Linked DNA regions of Homo sapiens: all the other regions are reported to be linked to region 4. Evidence: microRNA targets listed by miRTarBase, many of them from high-throughput screens and not tested one by one. Region 4 holds a microRNA gene; each other region holds the end of a gene's coding sequence.

The links. Region 4 holds the annotated microRNA hsa-miR-10b-5p (UACCCUGUAGAACCGAAUUUGUG, at 1,739-1,761, opposite strand). A microRNA usually pairs through its seed, bases 2 to 8, with sites in the 3' UTR of a target mRNA and lowers its output. Matches are read on the target gene's strand: a 7mer-m8 pairs with bases 2 to 8, a 7mer-A1 pairs with bases 2 to 7 and ends in A, and an 8mer does both.
Region 1: miRTarBase lists SCMH1 as a target of hsa-miR-10b-5p. The part of its 3' UTR that is shown has no 7-base or 8-base seed match.
Region 2: miRTarBase lists MSTO1 as a target of hsa-miR-10b-5p. The part of its 3' UTR that is shown has no 7-base or 8-base seed match.
Region 3: miRTarBase lists LYL1 as a target of hsa-miR-10b-5p. The part of its 3' UTR that is shown has no 7-base or 8-base seed match.

The regions. Positions count from the first base shown.
Region 1 is chr1:41,025,531-41,028,761 of GRCh38, forward strand. SCMH1 (Scm polycomb group protein homolog 1) reads right to left here. Exons shown (of 16, transcript NM_001394311.1): 15 at 3,054-3,196; 16 at 1,672-2,789. The coding sequence ends at 2,664. It overlaps SLFNL1-AS1 (SLFNL1 antisense RNA 1), which reads left to right. Exons shown (of 4, transcript NR_037868.1): 2 at 3,003-3,182. Among named protein-coding and RNA genes, the nearest start is that of SLFNL1, 5.4 kb to the left of the region's middle. RefSeq lists an enhancer at 1,335-2,253.
Region 2 is chr1:155,613,812-155,616,811 of GRCh38, forward strand. It overlaps MSTO1 (misato mitochondrial distribution and morphology regulator 1), which reads left to right. Exons shown (of 14, transcript NM_018116.4): 14 at 248-1,140. The coding sequence ends at 462. It also overlaps the pseudogene LOC100419798. Among named protein-coding and RNA genes, the nearest start is that of MSTO1, 5.1 kb to the left of the region's middle.
Region 3 is chr19:13,096,483-13,099,713 of GRCh38, reverse strand. LYL1 (LYL1 basic helix-loop-helix family member) reads left to right here. Exons shown (of 4, transcript NM_005583.5): 4 at 1-681. The coding sequence ends at 395. It overlaps NFIX (nuclear factor I X), which reads right to left. Exons shown (of 11, transcript NM_001365902.3): 11 at 918-3,231. Among named protein-coding and RNA genes, the nearest start is that of LYL1, 4.8 kb to the left of the region's middle. RefSeq lists enhancers at 1-339, 1,547-1,686, 2,932-3,231.
Region 4 is chr2:176,148,875-176,152,089 of GRCh38, reverse strand. It overlaps MIR10B (microRNA 10b), which reads right to left and starts at 1,787; the gene lies at 1,678-1,787. HOXD4 (homeobox D4) reads right to left here and starts at 540. Exons shown (of 2, transcript NM_014621.3): 1 at 24-540. The coding sequence starts at 456. RefSeq lists an enhancer at 88-821.

The DNA.
Region 1 (3,231 bases), not on the chromosome of region 4:
CTTGAGGGTCACATCTAGAAGTTTGTTGTTAGGGTTCAGCAAGGTGCTCATTGGGAATACCCTGAATGAACAGCACAGTCTACAAGATCCCAGTGTTGGCCGGGTGCGGTGGCTCAGGCCTGTAATCCCAGCACTTTGCGAGGCCAAGGCAGGCGGATCACTTGAGGTCAGGAGTTCGAGACCAGCCTGGCCAAGATGGTGAAACTCTACTAAAACTACAAAAAATTAGCCAGGCATGGTGGCGTGTGCCTGTAGTCGCAGCTACTTGGGAGGCTGAGGCATGAGAATCACTTGAACTCGGGAGGCGGAGGTTGCAGGGAGCCGAGATCGTGCCACTGCACTCCAGCCTGGGCGACAGAGACACTGTCAAAAAAAAAAAAAAAACCCCAGTGTCAAGGAGTTGGTAGAAAATGAGGGCCTCAACTTGTTTGGCAGCCTTGACCCTGACTGTTTCACAGTGACCATGGTTAGAACCTCACAGTGGCCAAGTAGAAAATATATTCTAAGTAAGTTATGATATTGGAACTTGTCACTGGTGAAAGCTTGAAGGGCCTTCACAAGTCTCCTCATGCAAATACCCCATAGCCAGATGGGCCCAAAGAAAGGAAATGACCCACCCAAAGCTTCCTGGCACATAGGTGGGCTGGCTAGAACCTCAGCCTTGCAGTCAAATGTCTGCTTTGGCACTTCCTGCCTGTGTGACCTGAGCTTAAGTTTCCTTATCCATAAAATGGGTTTGTTGTGAAGAGTAAGTGAGATAGTTCTAATTCATGTAAGCAGCTCATGTGGCACACAGTGATATAAGTGTTGGTGGTGGTTATTATCAGGTTATACTGCACTGACCTGCTGCTCCCCTATGCCTTCTCTTCCTCCTGCAAACCCTATACTCCAATTATAAACACGACGTGTGGCCCTGGAGTTGTGTGCCTGGCCCCTGGTCAGCACAAGGGGTACAGTGCAGGCCTGACCTGGCTGTGCTGGCCTGCATCTTTCCCCACCCTATATGGGTGAGGATATGCCCAGCCACTGAGGCTCCTAGGAGTTGCTGATGTAAGATTGCTCCCTCCTGCTCTGGCTTTGCATAGCTGCTGTGCTTACTACTGTCTAGCTGCACCAGAGCAAAGCCCTTTGAGGGTGGAGACTGGATTCACATACTGACTTTCCAAGGGGCCTGTGTGATGCTGGGGCTCTGGTGGACATTCGGAAGACCACCTGTTCTTTAGGGACTGCTGGAATTAGAAGGACGCTTAGGAATCATTTTTTCCAAGCTCTCCATTTTATTTATTTGAGACAGGGTCTCAAATTGTCACCTAGGCTGGAGTACAGTGGTGCGAACACGGCTCACTGCAGCCTCGATCTCCTAGGCTCAAGCCATCCCCTCACCTCAGCTCCCCAAGCAGCTGGGACTACAGGTGTGCGCCACCACAGCAGGCTAATTTTTGTATTTTTTTTTTGTAGAGCTGGGGTTTCACCATGTTGCCCAGGCTGGTCTCAAACTCCTGAGCTCAAGAGATCCTCCCACCTTGGCGTCCCAAAGTGCTGGGATTACAGGCATGAGCCAGCGTGCTCGGCCTCGTTTTATGTATGAGAAAACTAAGACCAAGAGAAGGGGAATGACTGGTCCAATGAATGCGTAGTGATTTGGCTGTTAACTGATTAAAAAGACACTGGTATCTATATTGGTTTTTATTTATAAACAGATTGACATAAAATAAGTCCAGATGGCAGCGTGAGTAGCTGTGCTGCTGACTTGCTTACAAGGAAGCCTGTGGACAGGCGAGTGGGTGGAACCGACTCCAGCCTGGAAAACCTGCCCTCCCATCCCCCTTAGCGCCTTCTTGGCCTTCCGGCCTGATTTTCTTCGACAGCAGTTCTGGCCAGGGCAAGGAGCTGTGGTGGGGGCAGTATAAGCCAGGGACTCCCTTCCCACAGATGAGGCCTAGGGCTGCAAAAGGGCCCCGTGAAGAGAGGAGAAGGTGACAGGGATCCTTCTCCTCCCCATATGGAGTGATGTGGTCAAGGCTTTATGGGTCTCTCCACCTCAAAGAGAAAGTGCCCTAGGGTAGTGTCCTCTGAAGAGGGGCCACGCCTATCTGCAGAGGGCCTCTCTGGGACCAAAGCAGGGCAGTCTCCCTCCTCCTGAAACCCAGTGTCTAGTGTGGGAGGAGTATTAACTACAGGGTTTGCCCAAGTGCCAGAAACAATAAATTAACAATAAGATCTTTTTGTAAAAAAGGTAGAGGTTTGCACCACGAGTTTGGATTCAGGGGAATCTGGTGAGAAGGTACGAGCTGTGGGGCGATGGGGTGCCACAGCAAGACCAGGACAGAGTTGGCCTTTTCCTCCATCACGTGGAAGGCATTCAGCCTAAACTCCTGGTGAGAGGCCAGCCAGGGTTGAGAAATAAATAGAGGGACCTTAGAGCCCCGGCAGAGCTGAGGGAAGAGCAGCACCAGCCCTGGACCCCCACTCTCCCTCCTCAGTCCTTCATGGAAGGACTTATCATGGCAGCTGTGGCTAGGAGTGGTGGCTCCACACAGCCTCTTGGAGTCCTGAGGTGGCCCGGAACCCCACTGAGGTGCCTGGGGTGGGCTGATGCCCCTCATTCCTAGAAGAATGCCCCCACCTGCTGCCACTTGGTTGTCTAGGCTGCCTCTCCTGGTTCAGAACTTGCCCTGCTTCAGCCGGTCAATGTGGTAGGAGAGCTTGAGTGCAGGCCCCAGCTTCAGGCCCATGTACTTCATCATCATGTCACTGCGCAGCAGCAGCAGGGCCTTGCCATCGATCTCCTGGGGGGTGGGGAGGTGGGCAGAAGTGGAAGGGAGGCACCATCAGAGTCCTGGTTGGTCTGACCACCCCAGGTTCTGATTATAGGCCATCCTGGGAAGTGCCCGCCACATGGAGTCCAGTTCACCTGCTGTGATGCTGAAGCCTACCTGTTCTCCTCAGCCTTTGTCTCTAAGCATCCCTCCTCCCCAAACATCTCGTATTGTCCCCACCAGGTGAGGCTCTCCACACAGGTTCCTACTGAGAGGTCAGGCAGCAGCACCTACGTGTTTGCGAAACAGGTCAGCGTGGGGTCCAAGCTGAGGATCAGCTTCCCGGACAAACTGCATCACATCCTCGACTGTCCATGAGGAGGGGTCCCGGCCACTCAGTCGAGAGGCATCGCGGCTCTCCAGGTATCGGTCCGACCCTGCAGGACAGGAGGGCACCTACCATAAAGGGCGG
Region 2 (3,000 bases), not on the chromosome of region 4:
TTTTACTATCTCCATTCCTGGATTAAAAGTGCTGAAAAAGTCCACAGTTAAACATTCCTTTATTCACCCTATGGCTCCCAAGAAAAGCATTCTTCCTCTGGAGTACTGGTGTACTAAGGGGACAATACACCAAATTTGTTGAGTTTACAATCAAGTCTACTAAGGTTGGACTTCCTTATCAGTTTGGCAGAGTCCCAGGGCAGAATAATCATCCATCTACAGGTCTCTGTTTCCTCTCCCTCCACAGCAGTGGAGAGCATCCCAGTGTTTGGGGCACTGTGTTCCTCTTCGTCCCTGCACCAGACCCTGGAAGCCTTGGCCAGAGACCTCACCAAACTCGACTTGCGGCGCTGGGCCAGCTTCATGGATGCTGGAGTGGAGCACGATGACGTAGCAGAGCTGCTGCAGGAGCTACAAAGCCTGGCCCAGTGCTACCAGGGTGGTGACAGCCTCGTGGACTAAAGTTCCCAGTGTGGGAGAAAGGAGCTAGTTTGCAATAAAAACAGCTGGATGCAGGAGCCCAGTGTCTTCATGCAGAGGAGCTCAATGTCGCGGGACTAGCTACACCAACATATGCACTTTTTACATTTAGAAACACTGTGATTAGACCACAGAACAATAAATATGTGCCATCAGACCAAAAAAAAGTAGAGAAAGGAGCTGAACTCCACTCTCGATGCTACTTACAGAGGACATCTGTAAAGTCTTCATAAAAGACCTTGAATGATGCCTAGGATGGCAGAGCCCCTGGGTCCTACTCCATCCTCCAGCCTTTGTCCTTGTCCTGGCCTCCTGCTCTCCAGATCTGTAAACTGGGCTCAAGGACTGTACAAGCAGAGTACAACTACCCGCCTCCCCGGTGCCAGGGCGCCTGTTGGGTTTGGTCCTGTGTAGATGATTCCCAGAGTCTCATTCATCCAGCTCCTCTTCAGACAGAAGGTCCCCATGGTCAGACAGCTGGTCTGCATTGCTGGTACTGGTTGCATCATCCTCATCCTCAGAGCTGGCTTCACAGGCAGTGTGGAAGAGCTGCATGAGTTCTCGAAAATGGTGGGAAACCTAAGAAAGGAGGAGGGCTGTATTCACTGATCCTTAGTAACATGTTAACATTTATGAAGCACTATATATTGATTTGCAAAATCTTTTGTTTATTCCACACAGCAAGGTTGAGAGAGCTATGTCACTATAGATAAGGAAACTCAAGAGGCTAAATGTTTTGCCCAAAGTCACACGACTCCTAAAAACAAAACTAGAATGGCCGGGCACAGTGGCTCACACCTGTAATCCCAGCACTTTGGGAGGCCGAGGCAGGTAGATCACTTGAGGTCAGGAGTTCGAGACCAGCCTGGCCAACATGGTGAAGCCCTATCTCTACTAAAAATAGAAAAATTGGCTGGGTGGTGGGCACCTGTAATCCCAGCCACTCGAGAGGCTGAGGCAGGAGAATTGCTTGAACCTGGGACGTGGAGGTTGCAGTGAGCCACGATCATGCCACTGCACTCCAGCCTGGGCGACAGAGCAAGACTCTGGCTCAAAAAAAAAAAAAAAGCTAGAATGGAAACGGGCTTCCACCTAAAAATGCAGTGTCCTTTCTCTTCTCCTAGAACCACTACCACCCTGATGAGTCAAGCCTTTCCTTAGATCAAACCTTTACAAAAACCACTTATCTTGGATATGAAAACTCCTTCTTTGGCCTTTCTGTCTCTTAGTTGGCCACCTTGACCTCTTTTTGCCAGGTCTTCACCCCAACCCGCACCTACCTCAGCAGGGGTCTTATTTCCCAGCTGCTGGGAGATGATGCTGAAGGTCTGTGGCTGTGCCCCTTGCTCCTGGCACATGGTGAGGATCACACGGTCAGCTTCCCTGTAACCCAGGTATCATGATTAACCCTAGGGAGCCACATGGATGTGGTCTATGCTCTTTTCCAAACACACATCATCCACCCTTACCTACCTTGTCCACAGGACAACCTTTTCCCCAGTGGAGCTGACCTTGCTGTTATTGGCACACACCGTAGCTTCTGTGGCCTTTGGCTGCTGTTCCCCCTCTGGACCCTTGCCCTGTGTTCCACTGTCTTTAGCCAAACCCCCTCTAGGGGCTTTGGGAGAAGTCTCTGAGGTGTCAATTCCTGATGGAGATTCATGGACAGGGCACGTCCTGTCTCTTGTCTTCACCCTAGCTCTGCTTGAGGGCAGCCATCTCTCTTGAGTGTCTGGTTTCCCGGACACATGTCTTCTCCCTGCATCTCTGGTCTTTGAGGAAACAGGACTCAGGAAGGAAGCAGGGGGTTCCACGGTACCAGGCAATTTCTCAGTTTCTGATGCATCCCAGACCAGCATCAAAGCCTCTGACTCACTCACTGCCTTTTGGCCCTCCCTCTCTTTCTGAAGTCTGGGGGATGCCTTGGGGCAGGAGCGAACCTCAGGCCCAACCTGGTTTCTCTTAACAGTGTACAGTACAGCTCCAGTTGTGGGGGGAAATTGAGGAGTCTCTGGTGAATGAGGTGGTGGGCCATCCAGGAGGAGCCGTTCTGTAAGAGTCACTTCTCGAGGGGATGGCAAAGTGCCCCCCACTGCCAATCCTGCTTAGGAGGAAAATAAGGATCCCAGGGTACTGTGAGGATCAAGATGCACCTAAGCACGAGAAATTACCTGTGGCCAGGTACTGTGCAAAAATTCTAATAAAAAAGAGTGCTGGGCATGGTGGCTCACACCTATAACGTCCGCACTTTGGGAAGCCAAAGTGGTGGGACTGCCAGGAGTTTGAGACTAGCCTGGGCAATATGGTGAGACCCCATCTCTGCAAGAAAATATAAATAATAAAGGAGTTGGGTGGAGATGGTGGGCATAATGTCACTTATGCAAAGATATAAAGTCCTACTGCCAAAGCTGAGAACGGCCCAGTCTTTAGGATGTAGATTACACTAGATTTAGAGATGGGGGAAGGGTTTTAGGAATAAAACACAAGACAATGTTGAATCATGTGAAATTTGTAGCACTT
Region 3 (3,231 bases), not on the chromosome of region 4:
CCCGGCGCGTGTTCACCAACAGCCGGGAGCGCTGGCGGCAGCAGAACGTTAACGGCGCCTTCGCCGAGCTGAGGAAGCTGCTGCCGACGCACCCGCCCGACCGGAAGCTGAGCAAGAACGAGGTGCTCCGCCTAGCCATGAAGTACATCGGCTTCCTGGTGCGGCTGCTGCGCGACCAAGCCGCAGCTCTGGCCGCAGGCCCCACCCCTCCCGGGCCTCGCAAACGGCCGGTGCACCGGGTCCCAGACGACGGCGCCCGCCGGGGATCCGGACGCAGGGCCGAGGCGGCAGCGCGCTCGCAGCCCGCGCCCCCGGCCGACCCCGACGGCAGCCCCGGTGGAGCGGCCCGGCCCATCAAGATGGAGCAAACCGCTTTGAGCCCAGAGGTGCGGTGACCGCACGCGGCAGCACCTCTGAGCCGGAGGGCACCAGGGACTCGGCCCAGGGCCGTCAAGGAAAGGGCAGTGGACGTGCTGCGCATGTTCGGGAGCGAACTCCCCCGAAGAAGGACCAGTGAAGACGTCAGGGGCAAGGTCTCGGGGGTCCGGAAGGGTGATCATCGACCCCCAAGGGACCCGCAGACCCTTAAAAAAATCACCCACAACCCTCTGGAAGTGGCCTTGCCCGGTCCCCTTCCCAGGGGCGAGGTCGGCAAAGCAACATGGCAGAGCAGTCATAGGACCCAAGTGGTGCCTCATTTTTTCCGGGCTGGGGTCGCGGGGGGAGGCCAGGAGGGGCTGGGGAGGCTTCGCTTTTCTCACCGTCGGCCCCTCCGGGAGACCCAGGGGCAGACGCTCGTCGACGGCGTCTGCTGCGCTCCCGGCGCTTGGACAGAGGCGCAGAATCCAAGTCGGGGACGCACCCTACCGACCCCGACCCAGTCCCGCACGGTCGCGTTAGCGAAGGGTCAGGCGCTCTCGCGTTTGTTTTTCTTTATTTCTTTATTTCACATACACATTAGCCATTCAATGGAGAAGCCGGAGAGAGTCAGGCAAAGATGGTATAACAGAAGCGCAGTGACGGGGGCGGGGCGGGGCGGGGCGGAGAGGGAACAGACGGGCTGGCTGCCTACTTGCATTCCGCTAGGACACTGAAAACCCAGAAAACAAAACAGACAGTAAACTACCCTTGTTTCTTATGTATCTCAGTGCAGAGACGGGGGTGGAGGGCAGAGAAGAGGGGGAGACCAGGCTGAAGGAGGAGGAGCAGAGGGAGGGGGACGCTAAGGGGGAAGCACACCAAATCCATTAGTACTATATATAGAGATACTCGTATATACTGCGTTTCTTAGCCTAAGAAGAAACTTGTTTGACGGGACGGGCGGCCTTTGCGGTCCGCGATGCTGGTGCTGGTCGGGCGCACGGATCTCCCGGGAGGGGCCGAAGCGGGGCTGGCCCAGGCTGGCTTGCGGGGGGAGGGGGGCGCCCCGAGGGTGGGTGGGGTGGGGGGGAGCAGAGGCGGGGCTGGGGTGCCCCTCGGGCTCTCGATTGGGGGACGAAAGTTCTCGTGACTTTATTGCTCCTTTATTTTCTCTCGTGTGGGGGGGTCTGTTCAGCACGGTCAGGGTGGGGGAGTGGTGGGTCGTCTGAGCCACCCGGCCCCTCTGGGACCCAGAGCGCGGCGTCCGCTCCGCCAGCACGGGGGTGAGAACAAGGCACTAGGTCGGCCGGCCAGCGCGGGGGCGGGTGTATAAGGCAGTCGACAGGGCTGGTTGCGGGGTGGGGCGGGGCTGTGTGCGGGGCCGTGTGCGTGCGTGCGTGCGGGCGCGGGCCTGGGCAAATCGACCTGTCAGCGTGGCTGGTCCTGTCCTGGAGCGTCGAGCCTTCCCGGTGTTCCCCGGAGGGGGTCGGGGATAGGATGAGAGATGTTGAATGGGGGCGGGAGGGGCGCCGGGAAAGGGGGGAGGAAACTACCAACTTGCTGAGCGCGCTCCTGATAATGCTGGTGAGGGTCAAGTTGGCGTCTGGCTCAAAGAAGGGCGCTCGGGGCGGAGAGGGAGGGAGGGAGGGGACGTTTGTTCGTTGGCATTGACCTCTGCGGGGGAGGGGCCGGGGACCCCTGCCGCGCCCCCGTACCCGGACGGGGATGGGGCGAGGAGGGGTGCTGGGCCCCAGGGAGGGGCGCCCGGGGAGACCCGCGGCCGGAGCAGTCCAGCCGCCGGGGGCACGCCGCTGTCCCGTTCCGTTAAACTCAACAAAGAAGGGATATGCGTATTCCTAACAAGTGCAGGATATTTAATTGATTCATAAACTTATGTATAATAGTTTGTGGGTTCTTTAAAACGTACTTTATAATGTAAGAAGCACCAGGGTTTTATGTTTAATTATCTTAAAAATAATTTTTCTCTCGTCCTTTTCCTTTTTGATCTTGTGTTGGTTGATTTTTTAAATGTCGAGGTGTTTTTTTTAAACTCTAAAATGTGAACGTTTCCTTCAGCCCTCCCACCGAAACAGAACGAACGACGAAACAAATAAAAACCCCAGATCATCCTCGTCAACGCAGGAAAACGACTTAAAAAAAAAAAAACTAAAAACGAACAAAAAAAAGGGAAAAACACTCAGCTTTCGTTATCCCCGCGCAGGGCGGGGCAGGCCCGGTTCTTTTAGCGTCCCCAGAGCCGCGAGGACATTACAACAAAAATAGAATTTTTTTTTCTTAATCTCTTAACATACAAAGATAGGAAAACTCTCTGATGCATTGCACTTGGTTCAATGAAAAAAAAAAGTTAATTTCCCCCATATATATTTTTGTTTTTTTTTTTTTCTCTCCTAACACGTCCCCACATCTCCTGTTGCCCTCATTGCCCCTCACAACACCACTTGGGAAAGGAGCAGCCCCCACCCCCTGCCCGCCCGGGCAGCCCCGCCGGGCACGCTCCGGCCCGGGCCCAGCTGGCCTGCAGCTTCCGACCTCGCCCGGGCAGGCGCCCCGCAGACCCTAGCTCCCACAGTCCCACAGAGCCCGAGCCCTCGACTGTCGTCGAGGGAAAGGGCACGTGGGCCGGACAGGGAGCCCCTTCTGCTTCGCTCTCAGCTCTGACCCTGTTTAGCCAACCGAACTGAAAAATCATTGCACTTTGACCGCGCGTCACGCCCGGCCCACCCGGCCCCCCACCCCCGGGGCCTTACTCCCCACGCCCCGGGAGACTCCCGCAGGATCCACTGCCCCTCAGCCCTGGGGTCCTCTAGGGCTGCACGCTGAGGACAGGGGGAGGGCTTCACTCAACTTCCA
Region 4 (3,215 bases):
AGGTTACTGGACCCTAGCCTTACCCGAATTCACGTGCACCTTCTTCATCCAGGGGTAGACCACGGCCGGCTGCTTGAGTGCCGTCCCGGAGGGCGGCTGCTTGGGGTCGGACTGACTGTAGGCCCGGGCGCCAGGCAGGGGCGCCGGCGGAGGCGCCGGGGGAGCTGGGCAAGGCTCTCCTGGAGCGGCGTAGTGACCGCCGGGGCCGCCTGGCTCTTGTCCGTGACCCCGCGCAGGCAGCGCCGAGCCAGGCCCGGGGCCGCTGCCTCCGAAAGGCTGCTCACCGAAGTCGGGCCGTGGGTAGAGCCCCGGGGGCTGGAAGTCTGCGCCCTGCGCGCCGCCGCCGTAGTAGTCGGCGCCCTGCTCGCCTAGGTAGCCGCCCTGCAAATACTCCTCGCACGGAGGGAACTTGGGGTCCACATACTTGGAGTTCACCATATACGAACTCATGACCATTAATTTCAGAAGGTAGAAAATACTAATTTTTCTCGTGTTGTCTTTTTTTCTCCTTCCATAGGGCCCTCCTACTTGCTGTCAACTGAATAAAGTTGGGCAGCCATGTGACCAGGCCAGCCAATGGCGAGGGAGCAAGTTTATCACCGGGTTGGTGAGCATCTCATAATTTTCACAAATTTAACTAAATAACATACGTGTAATCAAGTAGCTTGCTATGGCACATTTGAGAGCCCCTGCCAGATATTAATGTAGTTCCAGTCCCCAGCACCCCATTCCCCTCAGGTAATCCCAGCTTTTGTCTGCCACTGATTTTGCCAACCTTCCGTGGCCCTTCCACTCACCCCCAGCTGAATGCAACCCCCGCCCCCCGACACCAAGTAGGCACAGCTCAAGGGAGAATGAATCCTCCTATTGGGGTACAGAGCAATGAAAGGTGGGTGGGTGAACTCGCCTCTGAGTTGGGCAGAGTGCCCCAGGCGAGGAGGGTTCCTGCCTGCCCGCCCTGCCTGCAGCCGGCGGGAGCAGGGATTCTGCCATACAAAGGCCGCCGTCCTGGCTTTGTCTTCATCAGGGTCACCCAAAAGTTACCAGAATCTGGCCAGCTTGAATCAAATTAGGCAATGAGTAACCGCCATGCTTTCTACCAGTGCCCAGGCCCGGGGGTTCCCAGCCAAAGCTGGGCCCTGCCAAAATAGCAGGGGGCCCTCGCTGCCCTTGCCCATGTAGCTGGGGGTGGGCTGGGATGGTGGCAAGGGCACCTCCACCTTGTCAAAATGCACCCTAGAGCTCCCCACTGGGCTTCTTTGAAGCTTGCTTTCTTCCCACAGGCCCCAAATACAAGCAAGCCCCCATTTGGGTACCTTTGCACCTCATGTTCCTGGAGGGCAGAGCTGGGACTGGGCAAGCTGGCCTTGTACCTCACTCCCTAGTACCCCAAAACCTAGCCCTTTGGCCCTGCATCCATGCAACCAATTAGGCTTGCATTCTCTCTTTCTCTCTCTCTCTCTCTTTCTCTCTTTCTGTCTTTCTTTCTTTTCAGCACCCAGAGGATACTCTGTTTAAAGGTGAGGAGCTTCTGGAGAGGAAAAGCTGCTCTATGTCACCAGGCGCAGCTGATCCTCCTGGAGTCCAAGGTAATAAAACAGAACGAGGCGGCTGACCAGCGCCGGCTGCTTCTAGTCTCCATGTCGCACTTTGGTCTCTGGCTATTCCGAAGAAACGTGAAGTTTTTGCATCGACCATATATTCCCCTAGAATCGAATCTGTGACTATACGGATACCACACAAATTCGGTTCTACAGGGTATATATAGACAACGTTACAACCTCTGGGTCCCACCCAGAGTGAGGTACCTAGGTCGCTGCCGGCCCCAATCTCTTCCTCTGAGCCACCACCGTTCGACGCAGCCACCCGCACTTTCTGAGACAGTTCAGGTAGCCTAATGGGCTTGGCGACAATTTGAAGCAATGAGTTCCCTCATTCTTCTGCCAGGGTCAGGGTTACCAAGCAGGCGAACAACCAGAATATTCTTCTTAAGAAAGAAAAAAAGAAAGAAAGAAAGAAAAATAATCCATCCCAAGGATGGCGGCTTTATTAACCACCCTCCCCCACCAGGATCCAAATAACCCTCCTCCTTACCAAGTGGTATTTTCCAGAAAGGAACAAATGCCCTCAGCGGCAGAAGAAAAAGAAGCGAGAGGGGAATATCCTGTGTCTACTCCTTTTCCTACTGCCCGACCAAGCCAGGTTGTCTGCCAAAGCTACTTCTCCAAGAAGTCGCGCATTTACCTTCATGGGCCCTGATCCGGGCTGGCCTCTCCGTTCCGCTGCTGCTGCAGACCCCGAGGCAGGCGCTGCTCACAGGCACCGAGCCGCCTTGGGCTGAGGCCGGCGCGCTAATGGTGAAGGGCAGGGCGAGGGGTCATTCGAAATCATTTACAAACATATCACAAACTTTCATTATTTTTGCTTTGCCGACAGCAGCACACAAGAGTACAAAAGTTCACAAATTTCACCCGCCCCAGCGCCTCGGCACTGTGCAGTGCTTGTCCCTCAGTTCAGGGCATGGAGAGCGCAGACTCACTCAGAGCCTCGATGGATTTCAGGGGCACAGGGATGCCCTGGCTCGAGTGGGGCTTTTGGGTGCCTAACTGTAGGCTGAAGGTGTTAGATTTTTTTTTAACTGTCTTGATTGCCCTTCCTACCTCCCACATAATTCAAAATTTAGTTTCAAGCCTGGGCCTGGGCCTGGTGGGGTGGGGCAGGGATACTCCCCCTCCAAGCCTGGCACTTTGCTCATCCCCCCATCCTTTGCTTCCACCACTTTACCTGTTTCGTAGGGATTTTGGGGGCGCCAGTTCTAACAAGGGCTATGAGGCTGCAGAATCTGTTTATCCCAGGAGAGTCCCCCCAATTTCCCTGAATGCCAAAGACTCCCAAGTATCCACCTTCCTGGGACACTGGGCCTAGGCTCTATCCAGACAAATTGGGGGAGCCTGCTGAGCCGGCTGGAGACCGGGGTGAATATACACATTTTCATATTTGTTAGACGCTGTGACCTGCATTTCACCTTATTGCTCGACTTGTTCAGACAGGTCAAAGCCAACGAGTTATTGATGAACAAAAGCGTTAAATATTCACCTCCCGCTCAACTGCCCATACTAATGCTTTTGATCTCTAGGGCTTTTTGTGCTGTGTTCAGCTACAGGGCGCTGAATGTGGGTTTGCTAGCGAGAAGCTTCTGCAGAGATAAGCACCCA